4 linked regions of the Homo sapiens genome follow. The protein of the gene in region 2 purifies or fractionates together with the protein of the main gene of each other region. This does not show direct contact. Each region holds a gene or a part of one and is shown on either strand. Other genes may lie near its edges.

Evidence for each region.
Region 1: the proteins of SSB (region 2) and RO60 purify together in Homo sapiens (affinity purification with mass spectrometry; 3 studies listed by BioGRID and IntAct, with this or other methods). This does not show direct contact.
Region 3: the proteins of SSB (region 2) and PUS7 purify together in Homo sapiens (affinity purification with mass spectrometry; 2 studies listed by BioGRID and IntAct, with this or other methods). This does not show direct contact.
Region 4: the proteins of SSB (region 2) and TRMT6 purify together in Homo sapiens (affinity purification with mass spectrometry; 2 studies listed by BioGRID and IntAct, with this or other methods). This does not show direct contact.

What each region holds. Positions count from the first base shown.
Region 1 is NC_000001.11:193,069,607-193,076,632, reverse strand, and holds part of RO60 (RNA-binding protein RO60), read right to left. Parts: coding exon 6,999-7,026; intron 6,080-6,998; coding exon of another isoform or gene 6,014-6,079; intron 814-6,013; coding exon 593-813; intron 133-592; coding exon 1-132. UniProt on the Homo sapiens protein: RNA-binding protein that binds to misfolded non-coding RNAs, pre-5S rRNA, and several small cytoplasmic RNA molecules known as Y RNAs.
Region 2 is NC_000002.12:169,794,472-169,801,883, reverse strand, and holds the start of SSB (lupus La protein), read right to left. Parts: upstream 3,014-7,412; 5' UTR 2,908-3,013; intron 2,583-2,907; exon of another isoform or gene 2,368-2,582; intron 933-2,367; 5' UTR 924-932; coding exon 858-923; intron 1-857. UniProt on the Homo sapiens protein: Binds to the 3' poly(U) terminus of nascent RNA polymerase III transcripts, protecting them from exonuclease digestion and facilitating their folding and maturation.
Region 3 is NC_000007.14:105,477,269-105,484,294, forward strand, and holds part of PUS7 (pseudouridylate synthase 7 homolog), read right to left. Parts: intron 5,173-7,026; coding exon 5,044-5,172; intron 3,910-5,043; coding exon 3,784-3,909; intron 1-3,783. UniProt on the Homo sapiens protein: Pseudouridylate synthase that catalyzes pseudouridylation of RNAs.
Region 4 is NC_000020.11:5,940,522-5,947,547, forward strand, and holds part of TRMT6 (tRNA (adenine(58)-N(1))-methyltransferase non-catalytic subunit TRM6), read right to left. Parts: intron 6,013-7,026; coding exon 5,885-6,012; intron 4,394-5,884; coding exon 4,284-4,393; intron 3,733-4,283; coding exon 3,641-3,732; intron 3,511-3,640; coding exon 3,427-3,510; intron 3,163-3,426; coding exon 3,038-3,162; intron 2,266-3,037; coding exon 1,907-2,265; intron 1,516-1,906; coding exon 1,430-1,515; intron 825-1,429; coding exon 722-824; intron 619-721; coding exon 532-618; intron 1-531. UniProt on the Homo sapiens protein: Substrate-binding subunit of tRNA (adenine-N(1)-)-methyltransferase, which catalyzes the formation of N(1)-methyladenine at position 58 (m1A58) in initiator methionyl-tRNA.

The sequences.
Region 1 (7,026 bases), on a different chromosome or scaffold from region 2:
TTCATTACACAGTTTTTCACATACTAAAGATACTTCTGAATTTCCTGGTTCAAGTACTGAATTAGCAGTCATCTTTCCTAGATTCCTTAGTAATGCAGTAAGCGGCATTTCTTGTAACAAAGCCTTCCATACCTATTGCAATAACATAGGCAGAAATACCAGGAATTAAGGGAAAATAAATCAGTATAACATACCTATATAAAAAAATATTCATAATACAGTCTCTGAGGCTTTCATTTGGGGTTCAAAGTACTTTCAGAATGAAAAATGTCTAAGTAAAAGGCTTATCAAATAAGCTAACTTGTTTTTTACTAGAAAAAGGATGTGAAGTATATTTTATGAAGGAAATGCATAGATGATTTTTTTTTTAATTAGCAAGGCAGTAGATTTTCTGGAGTGAAACTAACACAAATGCCACCTACATCATGTTGGACATCATGGTAGGTGTTTTAAACAGACATCAATTTCAAGATATATTTTAAATAATTTCTTTTTAAAAGTATAAATATATAGCTACCCCAAGTTTATCCTTTTAGCACCTACACTAAATTACTCATGTTTAATCACATGCTGTAACATATAATTCACTCACCTCTTTAGACTTTAAGTGATTTGTTAAAAGATGTTCTCTAACTAATCTATGTTCTTCTATTAGATGAATGACTTCTAGCTCATCTCTTGTGCGCTTCACTTTCTCTACAGCCTCCAGATACTTTAATAATTTTTCAGTCTCCACAGAGAGTGCTTTTTCTTTATACAATTCATGAACTTCTTTCCAGCCCTTTGTAATATATTTGGTCACAATTGCAAGTCCTTTAACAAGATAAAGAATTGAAAAAGCATGCAGGATTACCAAGTAAAAAAACAGAACATGTTTCCTCAAAATGCATTATATGATCAACATAACTGGATACACAAGAGTTAATGCCCTTACACTGGGATGCTGCTTTCCATGATATAACAATTAAGCAAATGGGGTGAATTAATTTTCTTATTCCATCATTACTATTTAAATATGAGACTTTAGAGTAAAAAAACCTGTATCCTGAGTATTTTGTTACAGAGGCTTTTCTTTCTTTTCTTTTTAAAGACACCAGCATTAGAAAGTTTCAGGTCCATAATCTCAGAACAACTCACGAGAGTACAGATCTATCTCAATTAATATTGTATTGTATTGTAATGTATTATATTATATTAATTATATTCACTTGTCTCTTTTTGCTGTTGAATAAAATATATATATTTACAAAAACAGCAGAAATAAGTAGAAGTGGACAGGGTAGCTTCTTTTACACTATGTTTTAATAGCTGAGAAGTATTACTGCTCAAAAAAAAAAAAAAAAGGAAACAGTAACTTGTTGATTTCCTCCACAATTTCTTCCAATAGAAGAAAGAGAAAAGAGCCTTGGATTGGGGGTGAGAAAGTCTGGGTTCTAGCCTATACTCTGCCAATAAATGGTGGTCTTTCTAGGTCTTAGTTTCACCACTTCTGTAAAACAGCAGGGATTGGATTACAACATTAAAATGTCTATGAGGGACAAGCAAATAAAATAAATAAAACCACCACGGTGAGGCCAGGCACCATGGCTCATGCCTGTAATGCTAGCACTTTGGGAGGCCAAGGAGTGTGGATCACCTGAGGTCAGGGGTTTGAGAACAGTGTGCCCAACGTGGCAAAACTCCATCTCGAAAGCTGAAACTGGATCCCTTCCTTACACCTTATACAAAAATTAATTCAAGATGGATTAAAGACTTACATGTTACACCTAAAACCATAAAAGCCCTAGAAGAAAACCTAGGCAATACCATTCAGGACATAGGCGTGGGCAAGGACTTCATGTCTAAAACACCAAAAGCAATGGCAACAAAAGCCAAAATTCACAAATGGTATCTAATTCAACTAAAGAGCTTCTGCACAGCAAAAGAAACTACCATCAGAGTGAACAGGCAACCTACAGAATGGGAGAAAATTTTTGCAATCTACTCATCTGACAAGGGGCTAATATCCAGAATCTACAAAGAACTCAAACAAATTTACAAGAAAAAAACAACCCCATCAAAAAGTGGGCGAAGGATATGAACAGACACTTCTCAAAAGAAGACATTTATGCAGCCAAAAGACATATGAAAACATGCTCATCATCACTGGCCATCAGAGAAATGCAATTCAAAACCACAATGAGATACCATCTCACATCAGTTAGAATGACGATCATTAAAAAGTCAGGAAACAACAGGTGCTGGAGAGGATGTGGAGAAACAGGAACACTTTTACACTGTTGGTGGGACTGTAAACTAGTTCAACCATTGTGGAAGTCAGTGTGGCGATTCCTCAGGGATCTAGAACTAGAAATACCATTTGACCAAGCAATCCCATTACGGGGTATATACCCAAAGGATTATAAATCATGCTGCTATAAAGACACATGCACACGTATGTTTATTGCGGCACTATTCACAATAGCAAAGACTTGGAACCAGCCCAAATGTCCAGCAATGATAGACTGGATTAAGAAAATGTGGCACATATACACCATGGAATACTATGCAGCCATAAAAAGGATGAGTTCATGTCCTTTGTAGGGACATGGATGAAGCTGGAAACCATCATTCTCAGCAAACTATCGCAAGGACAAAAAACGAAACACTGCATGTTCTCACTCATAGGTGGGAATTGAACAATGAGAACACATGGACACAGGAAGGGGAACATCACACACCAGGGCCTGTTGTGGGGTGGGGGGAGGGGGGAGGGATAGCATTAGGAGATATACGTAACGTTAAATGACGAGTTAATGGGTGCAGCACACCAACATGGCACATGTATACATATGTAACAAACCTGCACGTTGTGCACATGTACCCTAGAACTTAAAGTATAATAAAAAAAAATTAGCTGGGCGTGGTGGCACATGCCTGTAATACCAGCTACTCAGGAGGCTGAGGCAGGAGAATCACTTGAACTGAGGAGGCAGAGGTTACAGTGGGCCAAGATCGTGCCACTGTGCTCCAGCCTGGCCAACAGAGTGAGACTCTGTCTCAAACAAACAAACAAACAAACAAACACAGTGATGTAATAGAGAGTTGTTAGGGTGTGGTGACTGAACAGAGTGTGCCCTGACAAGTGGTGTAGACACGTATTGACTTAGTGCTGCCAAAAGAAAAAAAACTTACTTTCAAGAGAAGCCAGAATATGGGTTTTTATGTCGATTTTTAAAGATAATGACAAAGAATTCATTTTTACCCAAAAATATTGTATAGGCCACATGAAACACATCTCTATGCCAACTGAGCCTATTATGTTATTTTTGAATGCTAAATAACTTGATCAAAAGTTAACACTAACATGCAGGAACTTCTCAAGTATTGTGACTCTTGCTATCTTCCAGATTTTGGTGCAAAATCATCTTAAATGAGTAAATGTTTCCTGTGAGTATATCTTCTATTTTGTTTTTCCAGTGAAAATAAAAATTCCTTAAAGCAGTTTTATCCTACCCGGTTCTGTAATTGCGCTGGCCATGCAGTGGGTGCACAATAAAAATACCATACCTGATGACTTGAATCACATTTTGACTTGTTTTGTCTGTTATAAATACACATTACACTTAAAGGCATTAAAATACTATTAATTCTGTAGCTTAGAGTTTTTCCAAATTTTTAAGCTTTGAAATGCTAGGGATTCTCTGTCCAATGTGATATTGCTATTACTAACATGGTTTCAACTGTGAGTTCTGCCCTCAACAATTTCAAATTAAAGAATCCTATGTGTGGAAGTAAGTTTAGGAAACATCTACTAATTCCTCATTATATAGACCAAAAAGACAAAGCACAGAATAATTATTTTCACAAGTTCAGAAACTAATTGGTCCAGTTAGAACTAGTAATGGGCGGTCTTTCTCTTAGTCTAGTACTTGCTCCACACTTCCAAGACACATCTCAACAAACCAATAAATAAAGCTGGATGCCTAAGTCCTTCTTATGTTGGATCAAATATTTGGATAAAAAATTTAAATGTAAAAAATAATGTTTCTTAACCAAGAAAATGTTAGGAAAAAACCACAGATAAATATTTTAGGTTGGAAAAGGCCCTTCTAATCCTAACACAAAACATAAACCTATGAAGACATGGATAAATTTGACTACATTAAAATTCAAAACTTTAGTGTGCCAGAAATGTCCCCCAACCAAAAAAAAAAAAGACAAAGAAAAAAAAGAAGAAAAAATGCATGCACTGTATATAAATAATACATTATCAACTCCTCTAATATGAACCCCAAGTTCTTAGAACAGTTTCTATCCATAGTAGGTGCTCAATAAATATTTGCTGAGGGCCAGGCACAGTGGTTCATGCCTATAATCCCAGCACTTTGGGAGGCCAAGGCAGGCGGATCACCTGAGGTCAGGAGTTCGAGACCAGCATTACCAACATGGTGAAACCCTGCCTCTACTAAAAATACAAAAATTAGCAGAGCATGGCGGCAGGAGCTTGTAATCCCAGCTACTTGGGAGGCTGAGGCAGGAGAATTGCTTGAATCTGGGAGGTGGAGGTTACAGTGAGCCTAGATTGTGCCATTGCACTCCAGCCTGGGTGACAAAAGTGAAACTCCATCTCAAAATAAATACAACAAATAAATAAATAAATATTTGTTGAATGAATAGTGATCACAATCAATAGTTAAAAAGACAGTAACTAAGTGGACAAAAGGGCTATGATGTAATTGTATAATTATACATATATACACACACATACATATATATTATATATACATACATATAATTATATGCATACATATATAGGTATATATATGTATATAGGTATATATATATTACATACTATACTATATACTAACATTATATATTATATATACTATATTATACAATATATAGGTGTATATATATATATAATCAGCACATGCAAAGATGAGCTTCTGCCCAAAAATGTAAATTCAAAGAATCTTTCATGATTCTACTGAAAGAGATTAAAAAATAATGACAACAGTTAAGTGTTCAAATGTGGGTACACTGATCCCTTTCACATACTGTTTGTGGATTTAACCATTATGAAAGTAGGTACTCTATGCAAGTGTTTTCATTGTAGTATTTTTGTAACAGTATAAAAAAACCAGAAACAACTCTTGTCAATAAGAGACTAGCTAATAAATTACAGTCATACAATGGTATATATGCAACTATTTCTACTGACCTGAAAGAAACAGCAATAGCAATAGCAATAATATACTTTTTACTGAAACATAGAAGGCATGTAACAAAATTTAGTGAAACACAGTAATATATGTTTAGGAAAAATCTGGAGTAAATTACAACATCTGATATACAGCAAGGGCCCTCAACTCCCAGGCTATACACGGATACCAGTCCGTGGCCTGTTAGGAACTGGGCTGCACAGCAGGAGGTGAGCAGCAGGCAAGTGAGCTCCACTTCCTGTCAGATCAGTAGCTGGGCATTAGTCTCATAAGAGCACGAATCCTACTATGATCTGAGCATGTGAGGGATCTAGGTTGCGCTCTCCTTATGAGAATCTGATGCCTGATGATCTGAGGTGGAACAGTTTCATTCTGAAACCACCCTGCCCTCCCCACTGCCTGCGGAAAAACTGTCTTCCACAAAACCAGTCCCTGGTATCAGAAGGGTTGTGGACTGCTGATATGCAGTTATTTCTTTTGAAGAGTAGGACTGCATCATATTTTTCTGTATTATTCAACTATTTTAAAACATGTAATCTAATAAAATCAAAATAAAATGTTTATACATATAAATATTTGCAATTTATTATTTACATTTCATTTGAAAAACCCCAGTTATAGTTAAAAAATAAGTCAGGAATTACTGAAGAGATTCTGTATATAAAAATATGTGTGGAAGGGAGAAATAGAGAACCAAAGTGTACTTCTACTACATGTTAGGTGCTGGGACATTTAGTCTCAATAATTGTAAGCTTATTCTCCTTACCCTCCTTTTAATAGATGAAGGTCAGAAACTCAGCTTAACTTACTTGGCTTAAGTCCACAGAACTGAAATGTGAACCCACCCTTCTGAGTGGCTGTCTTTTCAAGTTTCACTTCCGGTGCAAAAAAAAAAAAAAAGTCAAATTTTGAACATGTTGATTTTTGTGGAACTTCACACTTCAAATTACTCCTGCCCAAGAGTTTTTCTTATTTCTTTTCTTAAAAGGACTAGTAATTATTACGGAGCCAACTAACTTTTCAAAAGTCTCTTTCCATAGATACAGAAAAACTGCCCCAAGTTATTATGTCCCCTGACTAACTGCCTGAAGACAATTAACTTCCTGAATTGTTAAGTTCAGCACTATATCTGGTATATTCCTTTAGGTTCCATGGAAGATGGGTTCCTAGGAAGATGGGGAGGGAAAAAAGGAATGGGCTAGAGCAGTGGGTACAGCATGGCCATCTGCCGCCTACTGGCAAGGAGCTGATTTGCTTATTGCAACTTTTTTTTTTTTTTTTTGCTTTTCTACTTAGCATTTTATTGGTTACAGAGTAGTTTTCTATACATAATCTTAAGGAACAGCTGTGTACAGTTACCTAAGTTTTACAAACGATTATACTGAGACCAAGTTTGAATATCTGATGAGTAACTGGCAAAGCTGGAACTCAAAAGCAGTTCCTTCTAGTGACTGTACCCATATCCAAGGCTTATTGCAACTTTTAGTCTTGCCCCTGCTACTTACACAGTCCAGAATCACTTGGGTGAGCATTCCAGTTAGGACGGTGGCATTTTAAGATTCAGAATATTAACCTATAAACCTGTCATTTGATTCTTGATTATTAATGTCTGGATCGCCTGTGGTAGGGGTGTAATCCCAGGAAGGCATTAAATATATTTGAATTAATGTATATTTTGAGAATAAAAGGCTATTTCTAGAAAATATTACACACTTGTCTTATGTTAAATAAAAATTTGCTATTTATTGAATATCCCTTACCCACCCTTCTTCCCAATGAAGATCTTATGCTTACCTTCACTGGAAGGTTTAAGATGTGACAA
Region 2 (7,412 bases):
TGAAAAAATGCTAAGAGGGTTTTGAAAACAGATACTATATTAAAGTTACTGGCTGGGCACAGTGGCTCACACCTGTAATCCCAGCACTTTGGGAGGCTGAGGTGGGCAGATCACCTGAGGTCTGGAGTTCGAGACCAGCCTGGCCAACATGGTGAAACCCTGTCGCTACTAAAAATACAAAAATTAGCCAGGTGTGGTGGCGTGCTCCTGTAGTCCCAGCTATTTGGGAGGCTGAGGCAGGAGAATCATTTGAACCCAGGAGGCAGAGGCTGCAGTGAGCCAATACTGTTGTAGTGAGCCAGGATAGTGCCACTGCACTCCAGCGTGGCCAACAGAGTGAGACTCCATCTCAAAAAAAAAAAAAAAAAAAAAAACTATATTAAAGTTACAATAGCTGAGAACTGACTGGGCAGAAAAAAACTAAGATCATCAAAAATATAGTGTTATTTAACAGGGAAGGTACTTTACCAAGGACTTTTATGTTACTTATGTGTCAGGAATTCTTCTAAGTACTTAACATTATATTCACTAATCCTCCAAACTACCTTATGAGGAGGGAACTACTATTATTCTCATTTTATATGAGACTATGAAGCTAAAATTTTATATGAGACTATGAAACTAAAATTTTAAAAAGATTAAGTAACTCTAGTTTATAGTGTTACCTTTTGAAATGTTTGTACATCTTAAGTTTCACAACCTGGCTCCACCAATATAAAACTGTATGCTATTATATGTTCATCTAAGAATCAAAGGCAAACCAAATGTTGAATATGTCCATGTACTAGAATTAAATGTTCTTTCTGTATTTTCTTTCAAGGAACTTGTTTTTGCAGTTTATAGCACAGGAATCATACCTCAATTTGATGACAGATTTTGGCCTCCAGGGCAGCCATCTTTTCATTATCACCATTTTCAGCCATTGCGGCTATCTGTAAAATTTCCCAAATTAGCATAAAGTTATTTTTTATATAAAACTCAAGAATAGAAAGATAATGTTTACAAAGTATTAATATCCCGTTTTCTTAAAAAATCAAGAATTTCTATTTTCACGGGTTCAGTTTCTTTACTCAGTTCTCAAATATCTCAACAAAGCAACACTTTGGAATAAGTGATGAAAAAATCTAAAAACTATAAAAAACTTGTCTTTCAGTAAATCACTACCCCATCTTCTATAACAAGAAACTGTTTATCTTCACTTAGCTGGTCAAGCAAGCTTTAGGGAAAAAAACTCCAATCACTTACCAACCATTTCCAGTTTTAAACAGATAACTATCTATCTGTATATTACCATGGCTCTCTGTGCATTTGTTTGGTATGGGTTCACCTCTTTTTTTTTTTTTTTTTTTGAGACGGAGTCTCGCTTTTGTTGCCCAGGCTGGAGTGCAATGGTGCGATCTCGGCTCACTGCAACCTCTGCCTCCCAGGTTCCAGCGATTCCGCCTTCGCCTCCTGAGTAGCTGGGATTACAGGCGCCCACCACCACGGCTGCGGCTGACTAATTTTTGTATTTTTAGTAGAGACGGGGTTTCACCATGTTGGTCAGACTGGTCTTGAACTCCTGACCTCTGGCGATCCACCCGCCTCGGCCTCCCAAAGTGCTGGGATTACAGGTGTGAGCCACCGCGCCCGGCCTCATTTCTTTTAAAATGTAGTCACAACTGACTTACCCAAACCTTGTTACCAAGTTAGACATCATAACTTTAAGGTGAAAAATGTTACAGTTCCTTAGATACTCTATGCTAAGGAACATACGAAAACAAAAATGGGAGAATGTGGTCATACTAACACAACATTAAACTGGGGAGTATGCCTACTAATTTACTAATACATTGGATAGCCAGTTTCCTGTTTCGTATTCCTGACATTAGCACTGCAATGAAAAAAGGAAGCTGTGCTATTAGTTTGCTAGAAATTACAAACCAAGTCTTCTACTTACAAAGTACTTGCCTCCAGGACTCTACTAAGCCACCCAGTCATCCCAACTGTACAAAAGTTATGTGAACAAATCATCGAGAATATTGCCATTAGTTGACTCTAGTTATGAACTGATGTAGGTACACTTCCTGGAAGCATCCCCTGACACACTGCAATTGCATTCGATACCATGGATACACATAGGAAGCACTTGCAACGGGGTACTGTGTGATCCACATCCCCCTAGAGAAATTACTCAATTTTATGCATTGTCTTGTCTATCACAATCTACACTCCTAAGTTACTACCGTGATCTAGGGCCCCCTACAAAGCAAACGATGAAATAAAATAACTATTTAGACCCTGCAAAACCTATTTGGCCTAATTTTGGAACTGCGTTTCATCAGATACTTTTCCAGAATGTACGACTGTAAATGAAATATTACCCACGTTTTCCCGTTTCACACTGAAACCTGATGTGAGCGATGAAGGCCCTAACAGACCAAAAGAGTGACGCTGGTGTACATCTGCGGCCCAAAGTTCTTTGGCCTCCAGTCAGTCCCATAGGCTCCACAGAACCCTCCGGCGTTTACCCCGTGCCCACCTCCCCAGAAACTTTACAGAGATGGCCACAAGCCTTCGGTGAGACTAGAAGGCGGTGGAGGTAAAAAAAAAAAAAAAAAAAAAAGACGCAATGGGGATGAGGGCAGCCACAGTCCCGTCTCTAAGCAACCGCGGAACTGCCTGGGCACCAGCCACGTGCGGGGAACCCCAGGATCCCGCATTCCTCGCGGGGGCAGCCTCGCCGCCGCCCGCGCCCCCTCGGCTCCGCCGCCTCCGGCTGCGGCCCACGCGGCGCTCGGCCTGAACGTGAGGAAGGCGAGGGGCGGACGGACGCCGCGAGAAGCAGTAAAGAACGGAAACGCGCAGTCGCGCACCAGCAAAGCGGACCCTTTTGTAGCTTCTCATTAGCCACCGAGAGTTACTCACCTTTAAGGTTCCGGCCCACAGAAGCCGCGCCACAGGCTCACAAACAGCAACAGCAACGACTCCACCTCCCAGCGCCGCCGGCCAGCCTAAAGCGCTCCAAGAAGATGGGGACCGTCCCGGCAGCTCTTGCGGCCTGGGTGGGCAGGGCCACGGACGAGGTGGAGCGGTCCCTGTGCTCTGAGCATGCGCGGCTGCCGGGGCCTCCCAGGGACCCTGGAGTCCCGCCCTCAATCCCAAACAGATTGGGTTAAAAAGTACTCCAGGTTGTAGGGGAATGGCTGCTAGTTTGTGTTAGTATAAACATTTATTTTTAAGTATTTCTGGACGGCGTCTGTACCCCAGCCCTTCCTTTGGCCCTCCATTCATGTGAAGTGCTTTGGGTTTTTTTTCAGATATTTTCCAAAAATGTGTGTGAATACACACACACATCGTGTTGTAGTAGTTCTCAAAAAAAAAAAAAGGACAAGTGAAATTTAAAAAAAAAATCAAAGATCCATGAAATCTTAGAGTTTTGAAAACAATACAGTACAGCGTGTAAAAACTGGGTGTCTGGAATCAGACTGCCTGCTTCAAATAATGGTCCTCCTGCTGTGAAACTGTGATCTTGGACAAGTTGTTCAACTTCTCTGTTCCTCAGGTATAAATAGGGCCGGTAATAAATACTACCTAGTTCATACAATTGCTGTGAGTATTCAACTTGATGCAATATTGTCAACCTAAAGGGAAAAACTGAGGCAAAATTAATATAAGTAGACAGTTTATTTGAGCCAAGTTTGAGGACTGCCACATGAGAGCATGGATTCAAATTGCCCTGAATATATGCTCTGATTAGCAGCACTTACAAGTAGCTTTTAAAGAAAAAAGAAGAGGCAGTTCCTAAATTGTTTACCGATAACTTACATTACAATAACAAGCTATTGATTGGCTATACATTCTTCTTTGTATCACAAATTCGAAGAACATGAAAATGGATGAAGCAGGTAGTAAGGGACAAAGTGACTTGAAACAATTGCCCCCCAAGCATGGCGACTGATATAGTTTGGTTCTGTGTCCCCACACAAATCTCATCTCGAATTGTAATCCCCATAATCCCCAAGTGTGGAGGGGAGGAACCACACACAGGGTGGGAGGTGACTGGATCATGGGGATGGTTTCCCCCATGCTGTTCTCCTGGTGGTTTTATAGGGCAGTTTTCCCTGCTCTTGCTCGCTCCCTCTCACCTGCCACTGTGTAAGACATGCCTCTTCCCCTTCCACCATGATTGTAAATTTCCTGAGGTCTCCCCAGACATGCGGAACTATGAGTCAATTAAACCTCTTTTCTTTATGAATTACCGAGTCTTGGGTATGTCTTTATTGCAGTATGAGAACTAACTAATACAGGGGTGTAGGGACATGACTGAAGTCCCAAACTCATATCTCTCTGTGCCTGATAAATTCCGCATACCTCACATAGTTCAAACTGCTCTGGGCTCTTTTTTCTTTTCTTAAGGCCAATGAGAAAAAACATATTTAACAGGGTTGTGCTCAGGTAGTTTAAATTCAAATTAATTAGATTATCTTTTATCCACTCAAAGAATATTTATCTACTCTCTATTTTATGCCAGACACAATTGAAACCTTAATTCTTGTTTTGATCAAGTCAGTGAGAATATATGTATTTAACAGAACAAATAATATCAGTGTCAGGGTACTCTCATTCATCCATTCAGCTAACTGTTTATTACATGCCTGTTAATGTCCTGGTATGGAGGCTTAACACTGGGAATAGAAAGAAGAGTCAGAATCTGCCTAGAGACAGAGCCACCTAAACAAATATAACTGCTTCTTCATGTCCCACAACATCTGGGCAGAACTGCAGTACAGCCTATTATCAGAAGTCACACCGGCAAAAAAAACATTTATTTCATGTTCTCATCAGGTCCCTGGTCCTTTGCTCTCCCTTTCTTGTCTTTTCTTTTTTATCTTTTTCTTTCTTCTTCTTTTTTTTTAGACAGTCTCCCTCTGTCGCCCAGGCTGGAGCGCAGTGGCACCACCTCGGCTCACTGCAACCTCTGCCTCCCAGGTTCAAGTGATTCTCCTGCCTCAGCCTCCTGAGTAGCTGGGATTACAGGCGCCCGCCACCATGCCTGGCTAATTTTTTTATTTTTAGTAGAGTCAGCGCTTCGCCATGTTGGCCAGGTTGGTCTCGAACTCCTGGCCTCAGGTGATCCACCCGCCTCAGCCTCCTAAAGTGCTGGGATTACAGGCATGAGCCACCATGTCCAACCCTTTTCTTATCTTTTCTTTTTCTCCCTCGTTCCCTTCCAGAAGCAGAGTTCCATGCAGACACACCCTCTGAGGAAAATGAATTCCTGGCGGCAGACCAGGAAGCTTCATGTTTCATTTACAGTACCTAGGAGAGGACTCTCTCTCATACTGGTATCCATCTCTCATAGCATAACTTTGTAAGTCAGTACACTAAAAGACCATCTTTCTGGGTATACACTTAGTACAATTACTTTGAGAACAAATTGATAATATCTATTAAAGTTTAAGATGTGCATAGCTGATGGTGCAGAAAGTCCACTCTAAAGAATATACTCCCAGCCTGGCCAACATGGTGAAACCCTGTTTCTACTAAAAATACAAAAATTAGCCAGGCATGGTGGTGCATGCCTGTAATCCCAGCTACTAGGGAGGCTGAAGCAGGAGAATTGCTTGAACCTGGGAGGTGGAGGTTGCAGAGAGTCAAGATCGCGCCATTGCACTCCAGCCTGGGCGACAAGAGTAAGACTCTGTCTCATTAAAAAAAAAAAGATTATACTCTAGAGCAATGTTCACATCTGTACACAAGAAAACATGTTCAAGCATATTCGGGCGGGGTGCAGTGGCTCATGCCTGTAATCCCAGCACTTTGGGAGGCTGAGGAGAGTAGATCACAAGGTCAAGAGTTTGAGACCAGCCTGGCCAACATGGTGAAACCCCGTCTCTACTAAAAATACGAAAATTAGCCAGGCATGGTGGCACGTGCCTGTAATCCCAGCTACTTGGGAGGCTGAGGCAGGAGACTTGCTTGAACCTGGGAGGCGGAGATTGCAGTGAGCCAAGATCATGCCACTGCACTCCAGCCTGGATGACAGAGCAAGACTCCGTCGCTAAAAAAAAAAAAAAAAAAAAAAGAATATTCATAGCAATATGGTTTGTAAATTTAGGGAACTGGAAATCAACTAAATGTTCACCACAAAAGAATGGGTAACTAAATTAAATTGTGATATAATTAAATAATGAAATTCTATACAGTGAGAAAAATAAACTAGATCTACATGAATTGACATTGATAAATTTCACAAACATAATGCTGAGTTTAAAAAGAGATTTCAGAAGAAATATAAGTAGCAACCCCCAGTCACTGTGACAATGAAAAATCCCACCTACATTTCGAAACAGCTTCTTAATTATGAGGCTGGTTACTGCTCCCAGCCTCATATTAAGAACATTTAGTCTAGGGTAATAGCATTGCTCTATTTTGAAGATTTGGTTTTGTTACTGAATTGGGCTTGTTCTGCCTGTTGCACAATATGCCCAATCACTGAGACATCAAATTTTGCTGCAGAGAAAGGGTTTATTCATGAAGCAGCCAAGTGAGGAGACAGGAGAACAGATCTCAAATCCAGCTCCCAAAGATGGGGTTTTAGGGTATTTACGGGATAAAGGAGCAAGGTGGTCTGAGGCATGGGGAAAGGTAATTGGGGTAAGAAACAGTGAGGCAACTGGTGCTGTGCACAAGCATAGTCAAGCTTCATAGCTCTTCATAGGACACATGTCCACAAAATTGCAGCTTTAGCATGATCTGAGGGTGGAGCTCTTGGTCCTGTGATGCCAAAAGGTCACCCATTGGACACTCATGCAGGCCCAGTTGAAGAGTTGTTGGTCTCAGCTGGCTTAAGCTGGACAAGAGCTAACTCTAAGTTCCTGAAAAACAAGCAACCATTACCATGGTGACCTATATCTCAGATATGTAATCTGTAAGGAAGCTAATGGAATTTTATGTATATATTGCTTAGCTACATGACTTTTAGCTATTAAATATGTAGCTTTTAAAATTAACTAAAAACAAATGAGACAAGTTAAGTTTGGTGGGCCAAATCAGGTTAGCCCTCAGTTTCAGGTTGAAATGCTTATTAGACATCAAGGTAAAGATGTCAAGTAGGCAGTTGGTATGAGTTTGAAGAAGTCAGGGTTAAAGATATAAATTTTGGAACTATTAGTATATAGCAGACATTTTAAGTCATGTCATTATATGAGCTCTCCTAAAAAGAGTATAGACAACAAAGATGGGAGGATCCCAGACTGACCCCTCTAGCATTCGAATTTTTTGGATAATGAATAAAAGAAGAGAAGCCTGTACAGCAGCTAGAATAAGCAGACCCTGAGAGGTGCTATGAAAATATGGCACCATAGAAGCTAAAGAGTGGAATGTTTCAAGGAAGGAGGGACCAACTGAGTACATATTGCTGAGAAGAT
Region 3 (7,026 bases), on a different chromosome or scaffold from region 2:
AGACAGTTTCACTCTGTCGCCCAGGCTGGAGTGCAGTGGTACAATCTTGGGTCACTTCAACCTCTGCCTCCCGGGCTAAAGCAATTCTCCTGCCTCAGCCTCCCGAGTAGCTGGGATTACAGGTGTTCATGCCACCACACTCAGATAATTTTTGTATTTTTAGTAGAGGCGGGATTTCACTATGTTGGCCAGGCTGGTCTTGAACTCCCGACCTCAAGCAATCCGCCACCCACCTCGGCCTCCCAAAGGGCTGGGATTACGGGCGTGAGCCACTGTGCCTGGCTCACTTTCTTTTTTTCAAAGTTTTTGCTGAGTTATTCAATAATTCACATAACATATAATTCACCCATGTAAGTGTACAATTCAATGGCTTTTAGTATTTTTAAAGAACTGTGGAGCATTACACAATTTTACAACATTTTTATTACCCACCCCCACCAAAAAAAAATCCTGTCCCATTAGTAGTCACTCCCCATTGGTCCTGTTCCAGCTCTTTTTCTATAGATTTGCTCACATTGGAAATTTCATAGAAATTGATTCATTCATTCATTCACAGGCAGGGTCTTGCTCTGTCATCTAGGCCACAGTGCAGTGGTGGTACACTGTTCACTGCATCCTCAAACTCCTGGGCTTCAGTGATCCTCCTGCCTCAGCCTCCTGAGTAGCTAGGACCAAAGCCAGGCAGCAGCACACTCAGCTAATTTTTTAAAAATTTTATTTTGTAGAGATGGGGCCTTGCTATGGTGCCCAGGCTGGTCTTGAACTCCTGGCCTCAAGTGATCCTGCCGCCTTGGCCTCTTAAATTGTTGGGATTACAGGCATGAGCCCCTGTGCCCTGCCTACTTAGCAATGTTTTCAAGGTTCATTCACGTTGCAGAATGTATCAGTACTTCATTCCTTTTTATTGCTAAGTAATATTCCACTGTATATTATTGTATATTACATTGTATATTTTGTTTATCCATTCATCAGTAGGTGGACATTTGGGTTGTTTCCAGTCTTTTGGCTGCTATGAACATCTGTATAAACTTTTGTGTGAACATATGATTTTCAGTTGTCCTCAGTATATACCTAGAAATGCCTGGGTCATAGGCTAACTTTATAACCTTTTGAGGAACTGTCAGACTATTTTCCAAAATCGTTATACCATTTTACATTTCCACCAGGAATGTATAAGGGTTCCAATTTCTCTAATCCTAACACTTGTTATTCTCTGCCTTTTTTATTTTAGCCATCCTAGTGGGTAAGAAGTGGCATCTCACTGTGGTTTTGATTTGCATTTCCTAAAGATTAGTGATAAGCATCTTTTTGTGTGCTTATTGGCCATTTGATTACATTATTTAAAGAAAGGTCTGTTCAGACCCTTTGCTAAGTTTTAGAATGCGTTGTCTTTCTGTTCTTGAGTTGTAAGAGCTTTTAATATTTTGGATACAAGTCATTTCTCCACCTATACAATATAAACTGAAAGTCTGTTTTTTCCCTCAGGAAATTCTATGGTGTTAACAGTGCGTTTCCTTGAAAGCAGGAAATATTCTTATGTTGTGAAAATGAATGATTTGGAATTTTGAGCTGACCGTACTGACCTTTGGTCACGCTATGTAATTTTTGTTGTGGGATAAATTTGACCTCATTTTAATTACTTATATTTATTTACACTATCTTTGGCATACACAACGTATAGGATTCCATGGCTGTCCTTCTGCCAAATTAATTACAAATTTACAGGTTGATACAGTGCTCCCTTATTCTGTCCCATAATACAATTAGCATTTTTACTATTTTATCAATGTCCTCTGACCATTAGCAAGGTTGAAAACATATTAGCAATCACTATATTCTAGGCATAAAAATAGATGTAGCATAAACATCATCTCACTTCATTTTCACCATTCTGTGAATTGGTATTATTATCTCCATTCTACAGATGAGTAATTTAAGCCTCAGAACTCAAGTCTGTTTTCACCTGAGCTTTTTAACCTCCTCAAAGAGGCAGAGGAAATATAGATTTTTATCATTTTGCGCTTTTAAAATCACAAAAATGAATGCAACTTCATAGTTTAGATGCTGAAACAATGGACTGGAAGCCCGGAAAACTCTACTCCCAAACTAAAGCCAAGCAATTGATGAGTTCAGGCAGACCTCTCAAAGCCTAAGTTTGCTAACATGAAGGGTCTGAAAGACAAGGAAGAACATGGACGCTTAGATAACTTCCAGCTTGTAACTACCACAATTCTAACTCCCACGCGAATAATTAGTTTATGTAACAGAGTCTCTGCTGGGCAACAGGATTCCAGAAGTAGATTTAGGAACCCAACTATTTATTGATGGGATTCCCACTGTAGGTTACCCTAGAGGGGTTCTTAATTGTTTAAAAGTAAATGACAATTCTTAAATTCCATGTCACTAATTTTATCATTTATTACATTCTTTAAAGAGTGAGGGAAGGGGCCCAGGCACAGTGGCTCATGCCTGTAATCCCAGCACTTAGGGAGGCCAAGACGGGCAGATCACTGGAGGTCATGAGTTCGAGACCAGCCTGGCCAACATGACAAAACCTCGGCTCTACTAAAAATACAAAAATTAGCTGGGTGAGGTGGTGCATGCCTGCAATCCCAGTTACGTGGGAGGCTGAGGCAGGAGAATCACTTGAACCTGGGAGGTGGAGGTTGCAGTGAGCGGAGATGGCACCACTGCACTCCAGCCTGGGCAACAGCAAGACTTCATCTCAAAAAATAAAAATAAAAAATAAAATAAAATTAAGAGCGAGGGAAGGGCAGATCAAAGTTTAATAAACGTGTTAACACAGATCAGAAAATGTGACATCTCTGTCTGGCTACTCTGGGTCTGAGTTACCCAACAGATTACTGTTGAATCACTTACTGAGCCAAGACTTACCTGTTACAAAATAAAAATAAAAATAGGGCTGGGCGTAGTGGCTCACACTTGTAATCCCAACACTTTGGGAGGCTGAGGTAGGCGGATCATTTGAGGTCAGGAGTTCAAGACCAGCCTGGCCAACATGGTGAAATTCCCGCCACTACTAAAAATACAACAAAGTTAGCTGGATGTGGTGGCAAAAGCCTGCAATCTCAGCTACTTGGGATGCCGAGGCAGGAGAATTGCTTGAACCTGGGAGGTGGAGATTGCAGTGAGCCAACATTGCACCACTGTACTTCAGCCTGAACAACAAAGATTCCATCTCAAAAAAATAAAAAATAAAAAAAATAGCTGGGTGTGGAGGCTCATGCCTGTAATCCCAGCAGTTTGGGAGGCTGAGGTCGGGGGATCACCTGAGGTTGGGAGTTCGAGACCAGCCTGACCAACATGGAGAAACCCCATCTCTACTAAAAATGCAAAATTAGCCAGTCATGGTGGCGCATGCCTGTAAACCCAGCTACTCAGGAGGCTGAGGCAGGAGAATCACTTGAACCTGGGAGGCAGAGGATGCGGTGAGCCGAGATTGCGCTATTGCACTCCAGCCTGGGCAACAAGGGCGAAACTCTGTCTCAGAAAAAATAAATATATAAAATAAAATAAAAAAATAAAAATAGAACCCCTGGATGGGTAACCAAGAGTGGTAGGAAAGCTCACTTTTCAGGTCATATCCTTTTGAACTCCGATTTTTTACCCTGTGCACTCATTAACTTAAAACAAAAATCATGAAACTGTGGTTCATTTGCCCCAGACATGGGAGAACGTAGAAATAATTAAAAACACCACCACCAACAAACCCTGCTTTGTTTATGAGAAAGCTATTTTTGATAAAAGAAATTAAATACCAACCTTCCAACCTGATACGTAGGGACAGCTGTGGTTCCAAATCTTTGCATTCCATAGTAGTTAATAAATCCAATCTCCTTGAGAGAGTTCATAGCTTGCTGTACTTGGTCATCAGTTCCTGTTATATTTCTACAGGGACACAAATTATCCAGAGGAAAAAAAGTTACAGTCAAATACTCAGGGATGCAGCTCATAAATGACTACGGCCTGGCTTCCAAGTCTTTCGTTCACTCTCCTGCAGCTTTCTCTCTACCTCCCAAGGGCTCTTTCTTTCTTTAAGTTGTGGTAAGATATTTATAATGTCAAATTTACTATTTTAGCCATTTTTAAGTGTGCAATTTGGCGGTATTAACCCATTTATGGCAGAGGTTGCAATTTTTTGAATTTTTGCAATCAGACCTTGGCGATGACCTTGAGCAGTAGGATATAAATAATTCCTACATGCTTAGTGTTCCAATAATGGAACACTAGCATAAATGGGTTAATTATATGCACAATGTTGGACAATCCTCACCACTATCTACTTCCCAAATTTTTTCCCGTTTCCAAAATGAAACTCTGTACCCCTAAACAGTAACTTTCCATTACCCCTACCCTACCCTTTCCCCAGTAACCACTATTTTACTTTCTATGTCCATGGATTTGCCTATTCTAGGCGCTTTAAGTGGAATCACAGGCTCAGTGTCTTTTTTTTTTTTTTGAGTTGGAGTCTCACTCTGTCCCCTAGGCTGGAGTGCAGTGGAGCGATCTCGGCTCACTGCAAGTTCTGCCTCCTCGGTTCACGCCATTCTCCTGCCTCAGCCTCCTGAGTAGCTGGGACTACAGGTGTCTGCCACCACGCCCGGCTAATTTTTTGTATTTTTAGTAGAGACAGGGTTTCACCGTATTAGCCAGGATGGTCTCGATCTCCTGACCTTGTGATCCACCTGCCAAGGCCTCCCAAAGTGCTGGGATTACAGGCGTGAGCCACTGCGCCCAGCCGGCTCGGTGTCTTTTACTACAATATTTGAAGGAGATGGTGTCTTTCCAAAGGCTGCACTAGGTTTTCAAGGGGCAAGGTGTCCACACAAATCCTACAGAGGTATTTGCTCTCACAGAGGTATCTGCTCTCCCAGCCCTGCCAGGCCCTGCTCTGCCCTCCCTTGCTGCCACTCCTGTTCTGTTAGTACCAGCTCACCAGGACCTTATGACCAACCGTGAGTAACATACTCAAGATGCCCTGGCCAGACCCTCTGGTCTACATTCCCACCTGCAGTTCTTTACCTGAGAACAACAGTGAAGTGGTTTCCTTGAAGCTCTCCCAATTTCAGTGGGTTTTTTTGATAGCTGAAATTCCCTAGCTTAAAGTTCATCAAGCACTTATTCAGGTGGGCAAGTCTTTGTGCAGTTATTCTTTAAAAAAAAAAAAAAAAGCAACAAAACAAAAAAGAGTAGAAAGAGGATCATGAGATACTGATTGTCTGCTTGGAACAGTACAGAAAACAAGATACAGCACACCTATGACCCCCTGAAAGGAAAAGGCACTGCAGCAGGTGAGGTGGGCGTGTCCTTCTCTTCTCTCTGCATTCTTCCTTCAGTGTAATGGTACGTGCTCCTGTTCAAATTGCATACTCCTGGCCATATTTTATATACTTAAAGCCTCTTGTTATTTACATGCTGATGAGTAACAGAACAATAATATCTGTGGAATTTTCTACTTTTTGTGGGGAGAGGGGTGAGAAAAGGGATGGGGACAGAGACAAATCCCATAGAAAGAATGGTATCAAGCATTTAAAAAAAGGTCATTATTTTTGTCAATCAGAAAAATTTTGTAAACTCATTACAGAAAACTTGGAAAATATAAAAAAGAGAAAAGGAAAAGAAATTCATATTTTCATTGCCTGAAAAAAATTTCCACTGACATCTAACTTTTTATTTCCTCCCTTTCTTTTTTTAAAAGACATGTTATATATAGCTGGAATTCTACCCAAATCTGTATCATGCTGCTATCAATATATAGAAATTTTCATTAGAAATTCCTTGCCTTCTTCAATAGGAAATGTATATAGAGAAACAGAGTACTGAAAAGCCTTTCTCCCCTTTTTATCTCTAGTGTCACCACTAACACCCAATGTTGTTTCTTTCTTTCCTTTTTTTTTTTTGAGACAGTCTCTCTCTGTTGCCCAGACTGGAGTGCAGTGGCATGATCTCAGCTCACTCTGCCTCCCTGGCTCAAGTGAATCTCCTGCCTCAGCCTCCCAAGTAGCTGGGCTTACAGGCGCACACCACCATGCCCGGCTAATTTTTTTTTAGTTTTAGTACAGATGGGGTTTCACCATGTTGGCCAGGCTGGTCTTGAACTCCTGACCTCAGGTGATCCGCCCGCCTCGGCCTCCCAAAGTGCTGAGATTACAGGTATGAGCCACCGTGCCCAGCTAATTTTTATATTTTTAGTAGAGACGGGTTTCACCATGTTGGCCAGGCTGGTCTTGAACTCCTGACCTCAGGTGATCCACCCACATTGGCCTCGCACAGTGCTGCGATTACAGGCGTGAGATAAGTTCAAGAGATTCTTCTGCCTGAGCCTCCCGAGTAGCTGAGAATACAGGTACATGCCACCACACCTGGCTATGTTTTTTTGTATTTTCAGTAGAGACAGAGTTTCACTATGTTGGCCAGGCTGGTCTCGATCTCCTGGCCTCAAGTGATCCACCCACCTCAGCTTCCCAAAGTGTTGGGATTACAGCCATGAGCCAGTGCACCTGGCCATCTTTTTGTTTTTTAGGCTGCCAGGATCCAATTGAGGATCACACATTGCAGCTGTGATGTCTGTTTGGTTTCCACTAAGTGATCTGTCTAGCCTTGTTTTTCATGATATCTGGCCCTTAGAAGAATCCAGGCCAGCGCTTTTACACGTCTTTCAATGTGGATTTATCTGATTGTTTCCTCATGCTGAGACTCAGGTAAACACTTTGGTAGAAATATTACTGAGGTGATATGGCCCTTTTCAATGCATCACATCAAAAGGCAGTGATTTTGTCCAACAATGATAATAACTTTAATCATTTAATTAGGATAGTATTTACTAGATTTTTACACTCTAAGAGTCTCTTTGTCTTTGCTTTTAATTAGTCATCAGTGGGGAAATACTTTTGAAATTGTGTAAAAATCCTGTTCCCCCAAAGTCTTTACCCAATTATTTAGGTACCCAAGCATGATTGTTGGCTGAATTGATTATTACTGTGTTGACTGAAACTGTGTTTCTAT
Region 4 (7,026 bases), on a different chromosome or scaffold from region 2:
AGAAAAAAAGGGTCACAAAAAGTCAGGGGCATATTCTCTGAGTAACAGCCATGAGAAATCTCCATCCCTGTAGAAAGAAACAGAGACATCTCTATTTTTATTTTGTTTTGTTTTTGAGAGAGGGTCTTACTCTGTCACCCAGGCTGGAGTGCAGTGGTGGGATCTCGGCTCACTGCAGCCTCGACCTCCAGGGTTCAAGCAATCTTTCCACCTCAGCTCCTGAGTAGCTGGGACTACAGGCACCTGCCACCATGCTCGACTGATTTTTATATTTTTTGTAGATACAGGGTCATGCCCAGCCAATTTATGTATTTTTTTTTGTAGAGACAGGGTTTCACCATGTTGCCCAAGCTGGTCTTGAACTCCTGGGCTCAAGCGATCTGCCTGCCTTGGCCTCCCAAAGTGCTGGGATTACAGGCATAAGCCACTGTGCCTGGCTGAGATAACTCTATTTAATGACTTCTAGTACTACTGCAAGGAAAGTCAAGTCTCGGGAGGGCAGCTCTTGGGACTGGCTGTAAGAACACGTACCTGATAATTTCTGAGCCAGGTTTCAGACAGCCTGAGGTTGATGACCCCTCCCCTCTCCCGCAGTTTTGTGTAGCATTCCAACAGAGGCTGCAGACAACAACAGAATTCTGTTAAGAACTACTTCCTGGGATGCAGTTTAAGAATCAACATTCAGACATAAGAATTCCTGCCCATTCCATTCCAGTATTACCTCTTTGTACTGACAGTAGACCACAAACGGCCTTGAAGGGGCCACAAAGTCCAGCAAAGACAGCAGCAGGGGAGTGGGGTGGAAACGACTAGCTACAATTAAACTGTAAGGAAAATGCCAGACAAATTATTTCTCTACACCCTCAAAGTGGAGCACAGGTTTTAAAATGCATTTAAAATGATCATGTATTTAATTTGCATGACTCACAAAGAGAAGAGATTTAAATATAACATTCTAGAAATCCAAAACAGAATACAATCATGAGCTATTTCTTTCTAGGAAACGCGAACTAGGTTAGAAGCTCTTGTGGTACTTGGCAACTCTAAGTCGCATTTAATGACATTCTTGATTTTTTAAAAAAAATCACCTGGAAACAAATCCAACACTGCATAAGCTGCTTTGTGGATATCTGTTATAGCCTGTATCGCAGCATTTGAGTGCCCCATCCCCTGCATCCAGTGGGACCACAGGGCCCATCTTGATGCAGTGATGGAGAAGATTCAATTTCTTCTGAAACCCTGAAACCAGCATCATCAATTCCCCACCCCTGCCAGCCTCAGCCTCCTTTCTTTAAAAAAACCCCCAAGACAAAATCCTCATCTCGGGTCCCACTAGAGTCAAAGCAGACAAGGAGAAAGAGAATGCCAATCTGTCTGAAGCAGAGCCCACATGCACTGAGGAGTCTCCTGCCTTCTTCCATCAACGCACCCATCTGCGTTTCTTTCACTCAGCAGAGCGGCAGCCTCTAAATGTCTTTTCCTCTGCTCTTCTTGTCTCCTCTGTTTTTCCTGAATCTTCAAAAAGAAAAATAAGAAATCAATGTACTGGGGTCTTTCAGTCAAATTTATGGAAATGCTCTGGCCTGTCAAAACATTTCAACAATATTTATCAACTTGGACTAAACCAATAGAAGCAGGTTGTTTATAAGGAAGTTGCAAATACACAAGAAAGCCTATATACTATAAAAACCATGATTAAGCTATCTATGCAACGCTTCTGTATCCTAAAGCTCCATCCCGAAGACCGAATCACACGTTTGTATACATGTACACACACTCGTTCTCTGTTTTGATAGTTATCATCTTGGGAGCTAATACACCAAAGCCAAACTAAATCTCATGACTTAACTGAAGTTAACTGAGGGACTGAGATTATGGGGGTGGTGGGGACTCTTGGCATCCTTACATAATCTTTTTTGCTTCCTCTCTCTTTAGGCCCCTTATGTTCTGGATCTTGAGAAATTGTTTCCATTGTTTCCTGGTCTTCTGGGTGGTTGCTCTCTGGGGCCTCTGCCATGCTGTCTTCATTCTCTTGTTCAGAAGCCTGTTTTTCCTCCAGTGTGCCATTACTTTCTTCAACCAAAGCACTGTCTTTTGGCTCTGAAGATAACATCTTGGCAGAAAATGTTCCATGTAGAAGACTGTCCACTTTGTTGAGAGGGAATTCATAAAGACCACTGAGAAAAGATTTGGGAAATCCAAAACATGCTGTTGCTGCCCGAACAGGTCCTCCTCCAGGGTATAGCTGAATAATGGAGCCAAAACCTGAACAGATAAAAGAAACAAACATCTGCCCGTGGAGTGACTCTAGACTACGTAAACCCTCAGTGAGTCCTCCACAGTAATGAGACTGAAGGTCTTTCTATTAGTACTTTATTCAGAGGCTGAAGGATGGTGCAGCTCCTCAGGGAGTCTGTTTGGAGTCTATGAGTATTACCAATGGAGGTAATATAATTCTAAAGCAGATAGCAGGAAGACTCAAAGAAGCTTATCCCCACTTGATACTATTGTAAAACCCTGTGTCTGCAAATTTGGATGTCACATGATTGGTGACGGACTCTGCTTCCCCTCACTCCGATCCTCAAATGGAGCAGTTACAAGTTCTTACCTTCTATGGGGTCAGAAAAAAACCAGACAAATCAGGCTGTGTTGTATTCTTCCAGAGAGAATACATGCTTAGTAATCTTCCCACTCAATCCCTTCAATTTAGGCCCAATGAAATGAGCACCAGCTACCCAGGAGTTTACTAAAATCACTGTCCCGAAAGCCCTAGCCAGCCACAGGCTCCAGCATCATGCCCACTGACAGTGAAGCTAGAAAGGACAATTGCCATGGGTTTGGGGGTACCCATGGGTGGGGGGCTGGGTGATGGAGACTGTGTAAGAAGGTCCCCATGCTAGGAGCCGTGCAGGTTCACCCAAGTCACTTTGTTAACCCTGAAGTAATTCAATTTGGCTTTCCATGAGTTTACATTTTTGGACCACCTTTACTCACATCAGGGTGGGGTTTTGTTGAAAATGGAAATATTAAATCTTACCTCCCATTCGTTCCATCATTGCACCCAGCACCAAGCCTGCACACGTTTCCATCACAATCATTTTGTTGCCAGCACGGATATTTCCCAACGTCAACATCTGGGCTAGTGTATCGTATCTCATGTGGCTAAAGTAAAAACAATAATTTGTTCATTTTTAGCTAAGTAAAGCCTATTATTTTAATCATCATTTTTCAAGTTTTGTTTGCTTTATTAAAATTGTGTTGATAAGATTATTGATTGCTTTGGAGGTGACAGTAAAAGGACTTACAATTTATGAGGTAGGAGGATACTTTATGCAGGTGAGCAAGCTTTTTCATTTTACTTAAAATCATGACTTTCTTAAAGACATATTTCCCCCAATTATACTTTTGAAAGGAAACAAAGCGTACTTAATTTTTCCAGGTTCTCTTGCATAATACATAATTGAAAGAATACGGGTGGATGGCTTCACAACAGTAATGATGGCTTCATATCTGGGGGAAGAAAAAACAGAACGCTGATTTAAAAAAATGACTTAAAATATTTTATTTGTAATAAAATGTATATTTTATAAACATATAAGAAGTTTAATATTGTGGGCCTTTTAAAATAAAAACTACTTACTTTTTTTTCTTCTTTTTAATATATTTATCTTGGGCAAATTCTGTCTTGTCTCGGAATGTTGTACTATTTTCAATTAACTGCTGAACTATTTCCTATAAGAAAAGGAGCAAGTAGATTTTCTGAAACTTTACTTTCACAAAACAAGTAATTTCCAAAGGCTTCTTACCCAAGAATGGATCCAATGGTCTGATTCTCCAATCCCTTTTCCACAGAAGTCCAAATAGATGAACTTTATATTTCTATACTCTATTTGGAATTTATAATAAAATACAAGTACTTTATAACTCCACTTAAACCAACGTAAAAGAACAGAGATATCCAACAAAAGGAGAAGAGAGGTAAAGGAAACTAATTTCTGAAGACACTGGCTGAAAACATTACTGAAAATGAACAAAGTTAAATCCTGATATGCACTGTTATTACATTCTCTACCACTGACATTAGTAATGTCATTCACTTATATTCCTGTATATAAGACATAAAATCTTTGAAATGTTGAGTAACATGTACATTTCAACCTATTTCTATCAAAGCTATAACGTTATTTTTTTGTTTTACCTTAGGTACAGTCTGCTTTAAAAACCCAACAGTTTCCTAAATGCCAAACAGACAAAAACAAAACTAAAAATCCTTTGAATATTACCTCTCCTTTAATGCCCTTGTCCTTCAAAGCTTTTATGTCATCTTGAGTAAGTTTCTGAGATTTCCCATCATCAACTATATTTCGATTATCAGTGCCCGCTTCTTTAGTCTCTAAGGAAAGAAATTGCTCTATTGACATTTATGGTCTGAAATTATTTGACACTTTCTTTTTCTGAGTTCATATCCACATCCAGTCCATCAGCCACTCAAGTCTGGCCTCCCAGCTGCACTGCCCCCATCACACTATCCTTTCCTGCCAAAACTACTCCAAGCCTCTAAGTCATCTTCCTGCTCCCAGTCTTGCCCCCCTACTATCCACCTGGATGCCAGAGTGCTCTTTGTTTAAATGCAATTTGACTCATCTACCCCATGCTTAAAACCATACAGTGGCTTCCCATAGCAATAAGAATACACTCCAAAGATGACCTGCAAGGTCATAAATGATCTGGCCCCTGCCTATCATTCCTGGCCTGATCTCTTGACACTTTAGCTTCAGCCACAATGGCCTTCTTTCTGTTCCTTGAACACACCCAGCAAGGTCCCACAGCAGGCTTTTGGCACCTGCTGCTTCCTCTGCCTGGAAGGTTCTACGACAGATGTCTGAGTGGCTGGATCCTTTCTATCACTTGAGGCTGAGCTCATTCTCTTGCTTTACCAAATTAGTACACGCCCCTGCTTTATTATCTTCATAGCATGTGTCACTTCACCATCAGAAATCATGCTGTTTGCTTGTCTACTTGATTATTTTTGGTGTTCCAACTGGTAAGCACATTTTATACGACAGTCTATCTTATGAACTGCTATAATTGCAGCGCCAAATTATACCTGGCATATATTTGGTGCTTAGTAAAAATATGGATATTAATTTAAATGTATCTAAATAACAGGTTTGACTCAAAACTTTAACAGTATTTAACTTCAAATAATTACTTGTGTTTTAATTAATAAGATACTCTCAATGTTCATTTTAATAAATATAATTTTAATTAACAATAACAGCTTTTGGACAAGAGGTTGTTAAGAAATAATAATAGTAATAGCTAAAATTATGGGCCCTTACTAAAAGCAAGACACTATTCAGAACTTCCTATGAGTCATATCATAGAACACTCAATACAACCTAGGCATTAAATGTGTTTATGACCCTATTTTACATATATAAGGATATAAGACTCACAGAAATCAAATAAGTTGCCCAACGGTACAAGGCAAGTGATGAAGGTAGAAATTGAACTTAGCTGGATCCAAAACCAGACCTCTTAACCTCTACACCATATGCTAACCACCTCACAGCTGTTACATAACTTCTGGGCACTGAAAGAACTTTACATTATGTTCTTGCAATGACGCAGCAACGACTCATAGGATTAAATGCCTGGCCCAAGAACAGAGAACCATTTAATGGTGGGCTGGAGCCAGAATCCAGGTTATCTCATGGCCAAAGGCAGTACTTGCTTCACTCCACTGAGCTGCAGTTCTTAGATTATGAGTTAAGATTTCTTTTGGGATAGCATGGCCTAGCACTTGGGAATTAGGTGGAGGCTGAGATGTTTCTGACTAGTCAGTTGGAGAGCATCTATTTCACGCATCCAAAATGTGCACCTGCAGTAGGCTCTTCCCTCTTCTTCTTGGGCTGTAGACTTCCTCCACTGGTCACTTCAAATGCAGTTCCATAACTATGGCCAATGACGTTATCCAGGTAGAACCACTGTTTTTCGAAAGTTACTTTTCTAGGGAAAAAAAGTAATCAATTAACTGAATATCTTTTCTATCCAGTACAGAAAAGACATGTTCACTACAGTTTATTTCAAAAGTGGTCTCCACAATGGATGATCAGCAGCATTATCTCTGAACATAAAGCAACAAAGGAACTAGAGAGAACCTGGTTGGGATAGAGACGTAAAATTAATGAATAAGCCACAAGAACACTGAATTTTGGAAAGGGGAAGCAAAGACTCATCGAAGTAACAAGGATTTAACAAATTTCTTGGGCTTGGTCTGATCGGCCATTTTATTTGAAAATTATCTAATAAAAGCAAATTATACTTGCAAATAAACACTGACAATCTACACACTTGGAAATGGAGCCTAACACTGACAATGCTCTACTGAGGACCAGGCAACTTGAGGTTTCCTATGACATAGATTTTTTATCTTATTGCAATTTAAAAGAGAAATCCCACAGGAACACAATGCTTTCTTCTCAAAAGAAAACTAACATCTGCTGAGTGCCAACCAGGGGCTAGGCAGTGTGTGCGAGGTGTGATTCACACTTTTTGATTTAATTCTCACGGTAATCCTGGGACATAGCTCTTTCCAGAAGAGCAATCCGAGGCCCAGGGAGAAGTATCTTGTCCAAGATTCACAGTTGCAAGGTGTTGTTGGAGCTGGGATTCAAATTCAAATCTGTGTCTGACCCCAAGCCTCATTCTTTCCACTATACCACACGGTCTACTCCAGCAAAGACCTAAGGACGGTAGAAAGCCCACCTAGCTTCAGGACATGGCCCATGTGCACAGAACACTGAATTCTGGGAATCATGTGGTGGTTAATTCTGATTGTGCCCCATCCCACTCCTTCTCTTCCTTTCTCTGTGCCACCAGGAAGCTGATTACGACAGAATATACTGCCACATCACCCACGCTCCCGTGTCAGAGGCTTACCACCATTGCTGGTCTCTGGGTGTGTCACCTTTATTGGTTCCCTAAATCGGCCACACTTTTGAGTCACATCTTCATTAAAGC